Homo sapiens: one gene and its partner. The protein of the gene in region 2 interacts with the protein of the main gene of each other region in a biochemical or structural test. Each region holds a gene or a part of one and is shown on either strand. Other genes may lie near its edges.

What was found. Proteins that work in one complex are often made in the same cells at the same time.
Region 1: of the proteins of NUCB1 (region 2) and FAM20C, one has a biochemical effect on the other in vitro, tested with the Homo sapiens proteins (one study listed by IntAct).

The regions. Positions count from the first base shown.
Region 1 is NC_000007.14:195,547-202,570, forward strand, and holds part of FAM20C (extracellular serine/threonine protein kinase FAM20C precursor), read left to right. Parts: intron 1-7; coding exon 8-186; intron 187-1,586; coding exon of another isoform or gene 1,587-1,954; exon of another isoform or gene 1,955-5,137; intron 5,138-7,024. UniProt on the Homo sapiens protein: Golgi serine/threonine protein kinase that phosphorylates secretory pathway proteins within Ser-x-Glu/pSer motifs and plays a key role in biomineralization of bones and teeth.
Region 2 is NC_000019.10:48,910,301-48,917,324, forward strand, and holds part of NUCB1 (nucleobindin-1 precursor), read left to right. Parts: intron 1-629; exon of another isoform or gene 630-848; coding exon 849-952; intron 953-2,710; coding exon 2,711-2,896; intron 2,897-3,173; coding exon 3,174-3,264; intron 3,265-7,024. UniProt on the Homo sapiens protein: Major calcium-binding protein of the Golgi which may have a role in calcium homeostasis. Acts as a non-receptor guanine nucleotide exchange factor which binds to and activates alpha subunits of guanine nucleotide-binding proteins (G proteins).

The sequences.
Region 1 (7,024 bases), on a different chromosome or scaffold from region 2:
CCTGCAGGCCGCATGCGGGTGCTGAAGGTGCAGAATTCCTCTCCCCCGGGGAGGCGGCCGTGGACTCCTATCCCAACTGGCTCAAGTTCCACATTGGTATCAACCGGTACGAGCTGTACTCCAGACACAACCCGGCCATCGAGGCCCTGCTGCACGACCTCAGCTCCCAGAGGATCACCAGCGTGGGTAGGTGTCCTTGGGTGCACTCAGGGCCGTCTGTGTGCCGGCTGTGTGGCATCAGGGCTGCTGGGGCAGGCTATGTGTTAGAGAGGTCTGGGAGGCCGTTGCTCATTACGGCAGCGTCACCTCCTGCAGCAATCTGCACGGGCAGCGAGGAGGGACAGAGGGCTCGCGTCTCGTGTGCTCTCACACTGGATGTGCTCCTGATCTGCCGCACGATGAGCGGGGAGACGCCTGGACAGCCGGTCCACTGCGCTCTGCGTCCTCACCTGGGTGGTCCCGGGGGTGCCAACTGGATGACAGAGTCCTTCCCTCCTGGGGTAGAGGAATAGAGGGGTATCTCTGGCGGCGGTGACCCCTCCACCGGAAGCGTGTGCATGGAACTCTCCTGCTTTTCTACACACGACCCTGGCTGGGTGGGGAGACAGCCATGAGCCTGCTTCTTGTGGTTTTGAAGCCGTCCTTCGTCAGACCTCAGCAAGGCGCTGTGCAGTTTCATACTGAGGAGACATAGGCAGGGCTCAGGACGGAGGCCTGGGCCTCCCAGATGGAGGAGTTTGAAGGCAACATCTCCAGGTACTTTGGGATCTGCTGAATTGGACAAAAAAGGGCATCCAGTTGCTGATTTCAGGAAAATATGCCACTGCAGCTTCTGAGCGTGGAGGTTTGGTGCCATTGTTCTCAGCTTGTAGGCGATTGTTTGTGAAGGTCCCATTTGTCACCAGTGCTTGGAGAGGTAGTGAGGGCGGGGCTGAGGCCCTTTAGTGGGAGCAGCTGCTCCCCGGGGATTGCAGGGAGTGGGCCTGGGTGCACACAGCTGTGGGCAGGTGCAGAGGCCATGACAGCCTGAAGGCAGGGCTTTCTTTGCGCTGTGTGATGAGGCCAGCAGTCCCAGGCATTAGCTTCATGTGTGTCTCAGAAGCAACCTTGGTGCTGAAAGGGTCCCAGCAGCCTGGGGTTCTGTCCAGTTGCTGACACAGGACTTAGGTGTCCCCTTTCAGGCCAGCAGGTAGGTTCTCCTGAGCTCTTCGGGGCTGTTTCTGGCTCTCTCTGCCGGGTGCTGAGTTGTTTGCTGGGCACTCACCTGGTCATGGGGAGACAGAACTTGCAGCTCTCTCCCCACCCCTTGATCAGCTCACCTCATAACAGAGATCAGCTGGACAAGCTGGGAGTCCTCTTCCCTCCATGCTGCCTGGGAGTAACCTGAACCCCTGCCCCCCTCCAGGCCCCCCTCCGTGAAAGCGCTGCCTTTCTCCTGCCCCTGCAGCGGTCTGAGGGCTTTCAGCTGTGCTGGGGAACAGTCCTGCAGACAGCCACAGCCAGAACGTCCCTTCTGCCCCTGAGAGTGAGCATGGCCATTAAGGAAATATCCGATGCATTGATCAACATGTTTGTCCATTCAGCAGATTTTACTGGCACCTCCTGCATGTCAGACCCCCTTTCTGGGTGGTGGGGAGTTGAGGATGAGTTCAGCCTCAACGAGATCTGCTGCCTCTGTGGACCTGACAGCCCCAGGAAGAGACACACACGCACAGTGCCCGATCCTGAGGAGGAACGAGCACTTCAGAGCCGTGCACGCCAGCCAGGCCGTGTGGAGAGGAGGGGGCTCCACTGGGAGGGGCTGAGGACCTTCCACAGGGTCTGTCGGGCAGCTTACCTTCCAGGTGGGTCCGTCTTGGCAGGGAGAGGAATGAGAGAGCCGTGCACACCAGCCAGGGCGTTCGGGAGGAGCAGCACGCAAGTTAGAAAGTCCCCAGTGCCGCTGTCCGTATGAGCTTCTCTCCAGCTCATTTTCCCCATCTGTCCAGTGGGATCTCGCTGCGTGGGACCAATGCAAGGATAGGATGAGATGTGCATGTGAGCAAGCTTGTTAAATATTAACTAGTACTTTGTGCGTGGCCTTCCACAACAGTCCCCTCGTGTGCACAGGCAGGGTCTGAGCAGAGGGAGGGCTTTGTGGATTCCAAAGGCCACCAGGCCCTTGGCAGGCAACTGCAGCTCGCCACCTCCCTCACCGACCGGTCAGCTTTCCAACACCAACACTGAAGAGGTGTGGGAGTTCTGTGCCAGGAGCTCCCAGAGCAGCTTCAGGGAGAGTGTGGGGCCCCCTGGGACCTGGGGCATCTTTGCCCACCTTAGGAGTGCTTTGTCCATCTGGACAAGCTAGGCTTGGCTCACTGCCACCCCTCTTTGGTCCAGCTGTCCCGGGGCAGTGGTGCCCAGGCTGCCTGACATTGCAGGGGTGTGGACAGAGCCCTTGCCAGGGAATCCCTACCCCAGGATTCTGGTGTGGCCTCCGCCTGGGTGTGTCCTGGTTAATTCCTGTGCCTACTGAAGGCCTGCCCCAGCTGATCTCGCTCGCTCGCCTCCTAGACCATGCTGGCCACATTGGTTCTCATCCAGTCTTCTGGGGTGGGGACCCGTCCAAGGACAGGCTGGCTGCTCAGTCATTCTGCAGGGCCAAGCAGGGCCTGCAAGGACGATGGGCAGACACAGCCGCATCACCCAGGCAGGACAGCAGGCTCTGGCCCAGGAGATCTGGGGGTGAATCCTGGCTCTGCCAGCCATTAGCCAGAGTGGAAGTGGGCAAATGGATTAACGCCTCCAGCACCTGGTTTCTCACCGAGAACACAGAGAAGGTTATAATCTGGACCTGGTATAATCTGGACTCTGACTTACAAATCTGAATGCCAAGCAAAACCCATTCACTAGCGAAAACTGACTCAGGCTGAACGTATTTAGGGGCAAAACCTAAATTGTCGAGGCTAGTTAAAAGTCCTGATTTTTCTCTGTTACATTGAATAGTCACATGTTCCTCTGAGGAACAGGAGTGGGTTTAATTATGGGGTTCTGCCCTAGACCCGTGTGGGCATGCCATGATCCACACCATGCACCACGTGTGCCTTTGTCATCGAAATACCTGCAGTTCCCAAATACATCTGGCCTCACAGGGTTGTTGGGGCTTAAATGTGCAAATACGAGTAAAGAGGTGAGAGCGGAGCCTGACAGCGCACCTGCTGGGCAGGGTCTCCAACACTGCAGCATTTTGGGGGAAGCTCTCCTACTGGGTGGGGTCTTTGTACAGCAGCAGCATTTCAAGGTGGGCTGATCCTTCTCATCTGGGGAAGCCAGGGCTGGGCAGGTGCCTGAGCCTCATGAGGGTCTCAGTCTAGATGCTGGGCCCTATTCTCCCTGCTGCCTTGGGCTTGGAGATGCTCACAGGTGAGTTCTCATTTGTGAAGAGGTCTGTCTTCCTGAGGAAGCAGGGGACCCTCACCTGTGAACCAAGTGTGCCATGGGAGCTGCTCCATGTCCAGGTCCAGGTCTCCTGGTCTGCAGGGAACGGCACAAGAGGGCTGGCCTAGGCCAGGAGGATGTGATCTGTCCTAGAAGGGGGCTGACCTGCTTGCTGACCCCGCTTGCTGCTGCCTGGCTGGCCTGACTCAGCCACGGCTGTTCCGAGGGCCCTTCTGAGTACGAACTTCCAGTTGGAGGATCTGGGTGAAGACCCAGCTGCTTGAGATAGCAGCCTCTGGCTAGGCCCTTGGCGTGGCCAAGCCAATCAGGCAGGTTTAGAGCCTGGTGCCCCTAGACAGGTCCTGCAACCAAGAACAGGGGTAGCCTTCAAAGGCCAGCCCTGCCTTCCAACCACCGCTCCACAGCGAGGGAAACCAAGGCTCTTAGGGCAGGAGGCTTGTCCGAGATTAGCACCTGCGTGCTCCAGGCTCTGAGTTCTGTCCCCTCAGCTGTCCGGCCCCTGGGTGCTCACTTTAATCTCAAGTCATTCATCTTACTATTAAACGTGAGCCCAGAAATATTGTTGTAATGGAGAACGATGCCTGCGAGTCTCCAAAGCCTTCCCTCGGAACGGTTCCATTAAATCTCTCCTGCTCAGAACCACCCAATCCAATTCATGGAGCGCCACGTGGTCTACAGCACAGCTGGTTAGGGCCAGCGGAGGTTTATTTATAGCTGGGCTCCTGGCTGCCTGGTAACCGGCCATTGCCACCTTTAAAGAGTCTTGGGATATTATCTACCTCTATTCAGCTTGAAATCGGGCATGCAGTGCCTTGGGCTGGGGCTGGCGATAATTAAATTTCTATCATGCACAATTATGGATGCAAAGAATGAATGACATCCCACTGGCATGTGAGGATTCGGGCAGCTTCTGGACTGAAATACAGACTTCATAATTGCTCCATCCAGATTGGGACAAAGACTGTGGTTGGGAGAACATGCCTGAACAAAGAAAAATGACTCTGCAGGACCAAAGTTCTTGACACTGATTGATCTGCCAAAAGGGGAAGAATGAGTCCAGCTAGAATCCAGGACTAACCAGCGGGTGAGCTTCAAGGAACAAAGGGCTTCCGCTGGGTCAGCCCACGAGAGGGAGCTGCCTGCAGGTACCTGGGAGGGCACAGCCACCGTGTCTGTTCCTTGGGAGCAGGGCTCCTTGGAAGGCAGCGCCAGCTCCAGAAAGGCCACTGTTCCCCCTCCCACCCACCCCAGGTGGCAACTGCCCCTGCAGGTCACGGTCCCAGGGCCTCGCTCGGCCGGCCTAGAGAGAGAAAAGGGAAGATGCCCAATTAGCTGGACGCCCATGGCCCCAGGGCTGGGGGACCTTGGGTTATCCTGAAAGAAGGACAATGACCACCTGCAAAGGACGATTTCAAGTGGAGCCTGGAGGAGGCGGCAAATAGCTCAGTCCGCACTCAACTCCCTTCCCAGCCGTCTGGTGGAAGGTGAGGAGCAAAAGCTCATGCTGCTGAGGCCTGGGGCCACCCAGGCACCGGCCTCCCCGTGCTGAGCAGAGACAGCAGCCCCCTAGCTGCAGGAGTGTGCCCCGATGCGCACCTGCCGACTTTCCTTCTGATGCAGACATGGTCCCCACTGGGGCAAGGCTGCAGTTTTCTTTTAAAAAACAGATCTTTCAAAATAAAAGGGGCCTTGAAGAAAATCGTGGAATAAATAACAGTCTGGGGTGGAGGCGGTTCTGGCGAAAGTGTCCTGAGGGTGGTGTGTGATGGACGGGACTTTGGGCAGTGCTGATGGGGCCTTGCCTGTCACTTGAGGCCTCCAGGAGAGTCGAGGACTGGCAGATCCAGGTCCAGAGCAGGTGCAGGCTCCCAGCTCTTCCAGCCCCTTACCTCGCAGTAGGTTCCCACAGTTCTAGCCTCCTTGATGCCAGCCCCAGGGTGCCCACTGCTGGCCAACTATGTCCTTTTCCTCAAAACCAGGTCCCTCGGTGCCCAGGGTGAATGGGTATATGAGCCTGGGTGTGGGCACCCGGGGTCTGGGACACCGAGCAGACCTCTCTGGCTTGGAGATGTGTGCGGTGGGAAGAACAGGGTGACCTGAGCTCTCCCGGTGTCACATTCTCCACATCTGAGCCCTCTTTGGGTGAGGCCCTACTTCCAGCACACACAGCTGTCCCCATTCGTCTTCAGGAATAACTGACCCTTGAGGCCAGACAGTGGCTGTGAAGAGCAGGGGGACCGCCTGACCGTGACCCCCAAGGACAGACGCTGGCCCTCTTGACGGACGAGATGACCAGGGCCAAAGGCGGCAACATGGGGGCCCACGCTGACGGCAGCATCTCACACCTGGATGTGTTTCTGTGGTCCACAGGTCTGTAGGAGGTGGAACTGGTTAATTTAAAGTCAGGTTGGGGTTGTTGTTAGAAAGGGTTCCTGCTCCCACGAGAAACCAAGGATGAGTGGTGGCTGCACCCAGTCTCCATCCCCATGAGCACCCTGCGGGGTGTTGGGACCCCCAGGCCCGGGCCACACACCTCTCTCTTTCAGGGCCGTCTCTCCCTGTCTCTCCAGACCTGCTCTGGGTTCTTCCTTCTAGAGCTTCCCAGTGGGTTGCCGGAGCTGTCTGGGGTTATGTGGCTTGCCTAAGGCCACACCGATTGGGGCCTGGCACCAAAGTCCATTAGTATTTCTGTGACAGCAGCCATCTTTCTATGTAAGACGCTTATTTCATAAGAAATGCCAGCATCTCTTGGAGTCCTTCTGAGGAGGCAACTGCATACGAACATCGCCTCTGTCTCGTGCTGTGACCCGGGGAGAGACTGTGGGCAAAACCCAGTGGCGTCCGAGGGTCTGTGTGGCCCCGAACTCTTAGTGCTGACAGCAACATGAAATAATGAAGGCACAGGGCACTCTGTTCGTGCATGTTAACTTGTGTAACTAGTGCACGTTAATCACATTAACTAGCCATGTTAACTAGTGACGTAGATTAATAATGATGAATCAATAGGAATGAGTCCTGTATACTGACGGATATCCGGGCGATAGGATTCTTCAGCGAGGCCGGGGAAGAAGCAGACTGTCACCTTTGGTCTAAAGTTGGTGGGTTAAGTGGTGGGAGGTGCTCAGGGCAGGTGGCAGGAAGGGGAGAGCGTTCCAGATGGGGAGAACCTATTTGAAAGGCAGTGGACATCTTCCCATGTGCATAGAGAGGACGGGTGGCCACTGGGCGAGATTGCACTGGGGAATGGGGCTTGTGGACATCTTCCCGTGTGCATAGAGAGGACAGGTGGCTGCTGGGTGGGATTGTACTGGGGAATGGGGGGGCCCTATGGATATCTTCCAGTGTGCATAGAGAGAATGGGTGACTGCTGGGTGAGATTGCACTGGGGAATGGGGCCCGTGGACATCTTCCTGTGTGCATAGAGAGGACGGGTGACTGCTGGGTGGGATTGTACTGGGGAATGGGGGGGCGCTATGGATATCTTCCCATGTGCATAGAGAGAATGGGTGGCTGCTGGGTGAGATTGCACTGGGGAATGGGGCTTGTGGACATCTTCCCGTGTGCATAGAGAGGACGGGTAGCTGCT
Region 2 (7,024 bases):
CTCTTGATCTTGTGATCCGCCCCCCTTGGCCTCCCAAAGTGCTGGGATTACAGGCGTGAGCCACCGCACCCAGCCTTGTTTGTTTTTTTTAAAGAGTGGTTGAGGCTGGGCGTGGTGGCTCACACCTGTAATCACAACACTTTGGGAGGCCGAGGTGGGTGGATCACCTGAGGTCAGGAGTTCAAGACCAGCCTGGCCAACATGGTGAAACCCTGTTTCTGTTTCTACTAAAAATACAAAAATTAGCCGAGTGTGGTGGCATGCACCTGTAGTCCCAGTTACTCGGGGCTGAGGCAGGAGGATTGCTTGAGCCTGGGAGGCGGAGGTTGCAGCGAGCCGAGATCCTGCCACTGCAGAGTGAAACCCTGTCTCAAAAAAAAAAAAAAAGAAGGAAAAGAAAAAAAGAAATGGTTGAGTGTCATGGTTTTTGGATGTCCAATGGCTGGTTCCCATCCTTGCTCTGCCACTTGCTAGCTGGTACCCTAGACCAGTCACAACCCCTCAAGGGGTCTCAGTTTTCACATTCATAAAATGGGGATAATCATAAAACCCTTGTTGTCAGGATTTTGTGGAAAGTGAATGAATTAATACAGTTAAAGTGCTTAGGGCATGGCCTGGCATCTAGTAAGTAGGCACTACATGTTAGTTTTTATTATGGTTATTATTGTAAGCATCAGACTCAGTCGTGGGATCACCTCCTCCAGGAAGCCTTCCCTGATTGCCCCAGGTTCAAGCTGTCTTCTGGGCTTCCCTAGTGCTGTCCGTGACTTCTTTGGATCATGTCTGGCCCAAGATGGGGGTTCTGAAAGAACATGCCCTCAGGTGTTGGACTCTTCCCTCTCTTCCAGATGTACAGGTGGATCATCTGAATCTCCTGAAACAGTTTGAACACCTGGACCCTCAGAACCAGCATACATTCGAGGCCCGCGACCTGGAGCTGCTGATCCAGACGGTAATGGGAGTGGGTCCGGAGGCAGAGGATTGAGGGTAGCTTTGCGGAAGGGGAGAAGGGGACAGAGTCCCAGACGTGAGCCAGCTCACCATTCCTGCTGGTGTTCTCTGAGGTTGGAGGCTGGTAGAGGGCTGAGTCGTTTCTTTTCTTTTCTTTTTTTTTTTTTTTTTGAGACGAAATCTCGCTGTTTTCCCCCAGGCTGGAGTGCAATGGCACAATCTCGGCTCACTGCAACCTCCGCCTCCCGGGTTCAAGCGATTCTCCTGCCTCAGCCTCCCGAGTAGCTAGGATTACAGGTGCCTGCCGTCACGCCCAGAAAATTTTTGTATTTTTAGTAGAGACAGGGTTTCACCATGTTGGCCAGGCTGGTCTCGAACTCCTGACCTCAGGTGATCCACCCGCCTCAGCCTCCCAAAGTGCTGGGATTACAAGTGTCAGCCACCGCACCCAGCTCTTCTTATAGTGATACCCACCGTAATCTAGCAGGCCATCATCTTAACTAATTACATCTGCAAACACTCTATTTCCAAATAAGATCACATTCTGAGATTCCAGGTGGACATGAATTTGGGAGTGTGGGGGGAGTATACTGTTCAACCTGGTATTGTTAACTCCATTTTACAGAGGTGGAAACTGAGGCACAAAGAGGCTGAGTAACTTGCCCAGTGTCACAGAGCTTATGAGATTTGGTCACAAAGCAAAGCCTAGATTTGAACGCTGGGCAAAATAGTTAGAAACCTCTTGTTCTTTTTTTGGTTTATTTTTACTTTTTTTTTTTTTTTTTTTACCTGAGACAGCGTCTTGCTCTGATGCCCAGGCTGGAGTGCAGTGGCATGATCACAGCTCACTGCAGCCTCAACCTCCTGGGCTCAAGCAATCCTCCCACCTGACCCTCCTGAGTAGCTGGGACCAGAGGTGCAAGCCACCGCACCAGGCTAATTTTAAAAATTTTTAGTAGACACAAGGTCTCGCTGTGTTATGTGAGTTAGTCTTGAACTCCCGGGCTCGAGTGATCCTCCCACCCTAGCCTCCCAAAGTGCTAGGATTCCAGGCGTGACCCACCTCTCCTAGTCTGACCTTATGTTCTTGGCCACCTAGCTGTACCTGAAATACATAAATACTAAGTTCACCACATATGTTGTTCCTATTTACTTATTCCTCCAAGATCTGGAGATTGTGGAGGACTTGAAAGAGGTGGGTTGAAGTTGCTATTGTATAACCGTCCCAATCTGTTTTGAATAAAGAGAAGAAAGTGTGTTATGGGGCAGGAGCAGTCATGGAAACCAAAAAGGGCGACATCAGGCTGTGCGCGATGGCTCACGCCTATAATCCCAGCACTTTGGGAGGCTGACGTGGGCGGATCACCTGAGGTCAGGAGTTTGAGACCAGCCTGGCCAACATGGTGAAACCTCGTTTCTACTAAAAATACAAAAATCAGCTGGGCCTGGTGACACATGCCTATAATCCCAGCTACTCGAAAGGCCGAGGCAGGAGAATCACTTGAACCCGGAAGACAGAGGTTGAAGTGAGGCAGTGAGCAGAGATTGTGCCACCGCACTCCAGCCTGGGCAACAGAGCAAGACTCCCTCTCAAAAAAAAAAAAAAAAAAAGGGACATTAGGACACGAGACGTAAGAAAGACAGGTAGAGGCTGGGGCTGCCCTCAGCCAGGTTCAGGGCCAAGGGCCTGCCATTTACAGGCTGGAATTGGGGGCTGGGCAGAGGGGGCAGAGGGGAATGACCCTGTGCCTTTCCCCAGGCCACCCGGGACCTTGCCCAGTACGACGCAGCCCATCATGAAGAGTTCAAGCGCTACGAGATGCTTAAGGAACACGAGAGACGGCGTTATCTGGAGTCACTGGGAGAGGAGCAGAGAAAGGAGGCGGAGAGGAAGCTGGAAGAGCAACAGCGCCGGCACCGCGAGCACCCTAAAGTCAACGTGCCTGTGAGGACCCCATTTGTGCCCATCCACTCCCTACCACATCCAGTTCAAACGCAAGACAAGAAAGCAGTTAAAGAACTACAATTCCCAGGGGCCCTTGAGGCAAAAAAACTCCCTGTTACTGTACCTGGCTGCCCCAGGGTCTGCTGGGAGTTGTAGTTTTCTTAGTTTTCTTGCTTGAGGGAGATGATGTTTGTTGGATGAGGGTAAAGGGATATTTGGTTTTATCCCATGGCATCCAGACTTCTTGCTCATGAGCTCCTGGCTCTCCCCTCCACAGGGCAGCCAAGCCCAGTTGAAGGAGGTGTGGGAGGAGCTGGATGGACTGGACCCCAACAGGTTTAACCCCAAGACCTTCTTCATACTGCATGGTAAGGTGGGGAGGGAGTTCCAGAGCCAGGATGAACCCTAGATTCTGACCCTTCTAGGACCTGAATGCTAAGAGGGGTGTGTCTGTCCCAGGAGGGCTTAGTCAGGCCCAAGAGCCAAGCCTATGTCCCCTGGTTGACCAGACAGCCCTGCCTCTCCCGACTACAAGGCTAGGATCTGCATGGAAGGGTTGGGCCTCTTTTCTAGCAAACACCAGACCTCGGGGTTCTAAGGACAGCTGGTGTCCTCTGTAAGCAAACCAGGCTTGGCTAGGCCTGGGCCCTCTGCCCACAGCAGCCCAGGAGAAGCCCTGGTCCACTCTGGGAACCCTGTCGCTAGGAGTGGGTTGTTCCCTAAGAACCAGGCCTCCAGAAGCCTGGAAAACCCTTTCTCTTTTTCTTTTTCCTTTTTTTTTTTTTTTTTGAGATGGAGTCTTGCTCTGTTGCCCAGGCTGGAGTGCAGTGGCATGACCTCGGCTCACTGCAACCCCCTGCCCTCCGCCTCCCGGGTTCAAGTGATTCTCCTGCCTCAGCCTCCCGAGTAGCTGGGATTACAGGCATGCACCACCATGCCCGGCTAACTTTTGTATTTTTAGTAGAGATGGGGTTTCACCATGTTGGCCAGGCTGGTCTCGAACTCCCAACCTCGTGTGATCTGCCCCCTCAGCATCCCAAAGTGCTAGGATTACAGGCGTGAGTCACTGCGCCCGGCCTCGAAAGCCCTTTCTCTATGGTGGATCAAAGGCACACTCCCCTCAGTCTGTCTCTTCCTGTCTGGAAATGTGGCCTGGGGTTGCCAAGCCCCCTCAGGTATGCCAAGCACCCTGTCCCAGAATCTGTAGCCGGTCAGATAAGCTTAGCAAGGCCTGACTCATTCATTCAGCAAACCTTTCCTAAGTTCCCTCTAAGGACCAAGCTTTGTCAAGACCCCGTGGATACAACTGTAAACAAAACAAAGTACCTCCCCCTCAGAGCCAGTGATCAGGCACACAGATCATACCATACTTTAGTAACTCCACGAGACTGTACAGTATGAGAGGTGCTAGCATTTTACGTAAGCTGCCAATTAAATTAACGTACCATTGAAAACAAGATGCGTCCTGGGCTGGGTGTAGTGGCTCATGTCTGTAATCCCAGCACTTTGGTAGGCCAAGGTGGAAGATGGCTTGAGCCCAGGAATTTAAGACCAGCCTGGACAACAAAGTGAGACCCTGTCTCTATTTAAAAAAAAAAAATAGACCAGGCGTGGTGGCTCACGCCTATAATCCCAGCATTTTGGGAGGTTGAGGTGGGAGGATCACCTGAGGTCAGGAGTTCAAGACCAGCCTGGCCAACATGGTGAAACCCCATCTCCACAAAAATACCAAAATTAGCTGGGCATGATCGTGAGTGCCTGTAATCCCAGCTACTCAGGAGGCTGAGGTGGGAGAATCACTTGAACCCGGGAGGCAGAGTTTGCAGTGAGCCAAGATCGTGCCATTGCACTGCAGCCTGGGTGACAGAGCAACACTCCATCTCAAAAAAACAAAGAAAAAAATAAAAATTAAAAGTTAAATAAATAAAGATACATCCCTATTTCAGGGGTGATAAAATAGAAGAACACAAAAGTGCATCTCAGAATCAACGAAGGTTCTAGGCCGGGTGTGGTGGCTCACGCCTGTAATCCCAACACTTTGGGAGGCCTAGGCGGGTGGGTCCCTTGAGGCCAGGAGTTGGAGACCAGCCTGGCCAACATGGCAAAACCCAGTCTCTACTAAAAATACAAAAATTAAAAAACAAAACAAAAATTAGCCAGGCATGGTAGTGCTCACCTATAGTCCCAGCTACTCAGGAGGCTGAGGTAGGAGAATCGCTTGAACCCGGGAGGCGGAAGGCGGGGGTTGCAATGAGCTGAGATCACACCACTGCACTCCAGCCTGGGCAACAGAGTGAGACTCTGTCTCAAAAAGCAATAGAAAGTAAAAAAGAATTAGAAGATTCTGTAATGGGGTCTCAGGTAGTGACGTGTACTACCTCGCAGCCTTGACCACCCAGGTTCAAGTGATCCTCCCCCTCAGCCTCCCAAGTATCTGGGACCACAGGCACGTACCACTATGCCTGGCTAATTTTTTTAATTTTTAGTAAAGGCAAGGTTTTACCATGTTGCCCAGGCTGGTCTCAAACTCCTTTGCTCAAGCGATCCACCTATCTTGGCCTCCCGAAGTGCTGGGGTTACAAGCATGAGCCATCCCACCGGGCACCACCCCCCGTGTTTTGTTTTGTTTTTTTTTTGAGACAGGATCTTGCTATGTTGCCCAGGCTGGAGTCAAACTCCAGGCCTCAAACAATCCTCCTGCCTCAGTCACCTGAGTAGCTGAGACTGCAGGTGTGTGCCACTGCGCCCAGCTTTAAAGATGTTTAATTGTACAGTTCAATAGTATTAAGTATATTTACACTGTCATGCAACCAATTCTGAGAGCTCTTCATCTCGCACAACCGAAACCGTATCCATTAAACCACTCGCCCTCCCCTTCTTTCCCCTGCTCTCTAGCAACCACCATTCTATTTTCTGTCTCTATGATTTTGACTATTTTAGGTACTTCATGCAAGTAGAATCTTTTGGTATTTGTCGTGTGTGTGTGTGTGTGTGTGTGTGTGTTTGGCTTATTTCACTTAGCATAATGGTGAGGAACTGAAGTTTTCATTCTACTGGATATTAATTTCTATTTCAATTGCCCCATGTGGCTAGTGGCTGCTGTACTGGAGTCCCAGCACAGCTCTAGAGAGGACATTTGGGCTGGATGCGGTGGCTCACGCCTGTAATCCCAGCACTTTGGGAGGCCGAGGTGGGTGGATCCCTTGAGTCCAGGAGTTCAAGGCCAGCCTGGGCAACATGGCACAAACCCATCTCTACAAATAAAATACAAAAATTAGCTGGGTGTGGTGGCGTGCATCTGTAGTCCCAGCTCCTTGGGAGGCAGAGGTGGGAGGATCACTTGAGTCCAGGAATTCAAGGCTGCAGTGAGCTATGATCATACCAGTGCCCTCCAGCCTGGGCAACAGAGTGAAACCCTGTCTCTAAAAAATAGAAAATAGGCTGGGCTCAGTGGCTCACGCCTGTAGTCCCAGCACTTTCGGAGGCCAAGGCAGGCAGATCAGGAGCTCAAGAGATCGAGACCATCCTGGCCAACATAGTGAAACCCCGTCTCTACTAAAAATACAAAAATTATCTGGGCATGGTGGCACGCACCTGCAGTCCCAGCTACTCAGGAGGCTGAGGCAGGAGAATCACTTAAACCCTGGAGGTGGAGGTTGCAGTGAGCTGAGATCATGCCACTGCACTCCAGCCTGGCAACAGAGCGAGACTCTGTCTCAAAAATAAATAAACAAATAAATAGGCCCGGCGCAGTGGCTTACCCCTATAATCCCAGCACTTTGCGAAGCCAAGGCGGCTGGATCCCTTGAGACCAGGAGTTCAAGACCAGCCTGGGCAACATGGCAAAACCCCATCTCTATGAAAACAAATACAAAAATTAGCTGGGTGTGGTGGCGTGCATCTGTAGTCCCAGCTACTTGGGAGGCTGAGGTGGGAGGATCACTTGAGCCGAGGAGTTCAAGGCTTCAGTGAGCTACGATCACACCATTGCACTCCAGCCTGGGTGACAGAGTGAGACCCTGTCTCTAAAAAATAAAAAAATAAAAACCTTATTTAATCTTTTTAATCAGGCAGTCCCTACAGACCAGAATAGGTTCAGAGCAACTCCCTATACCTTTTTTTATTTTT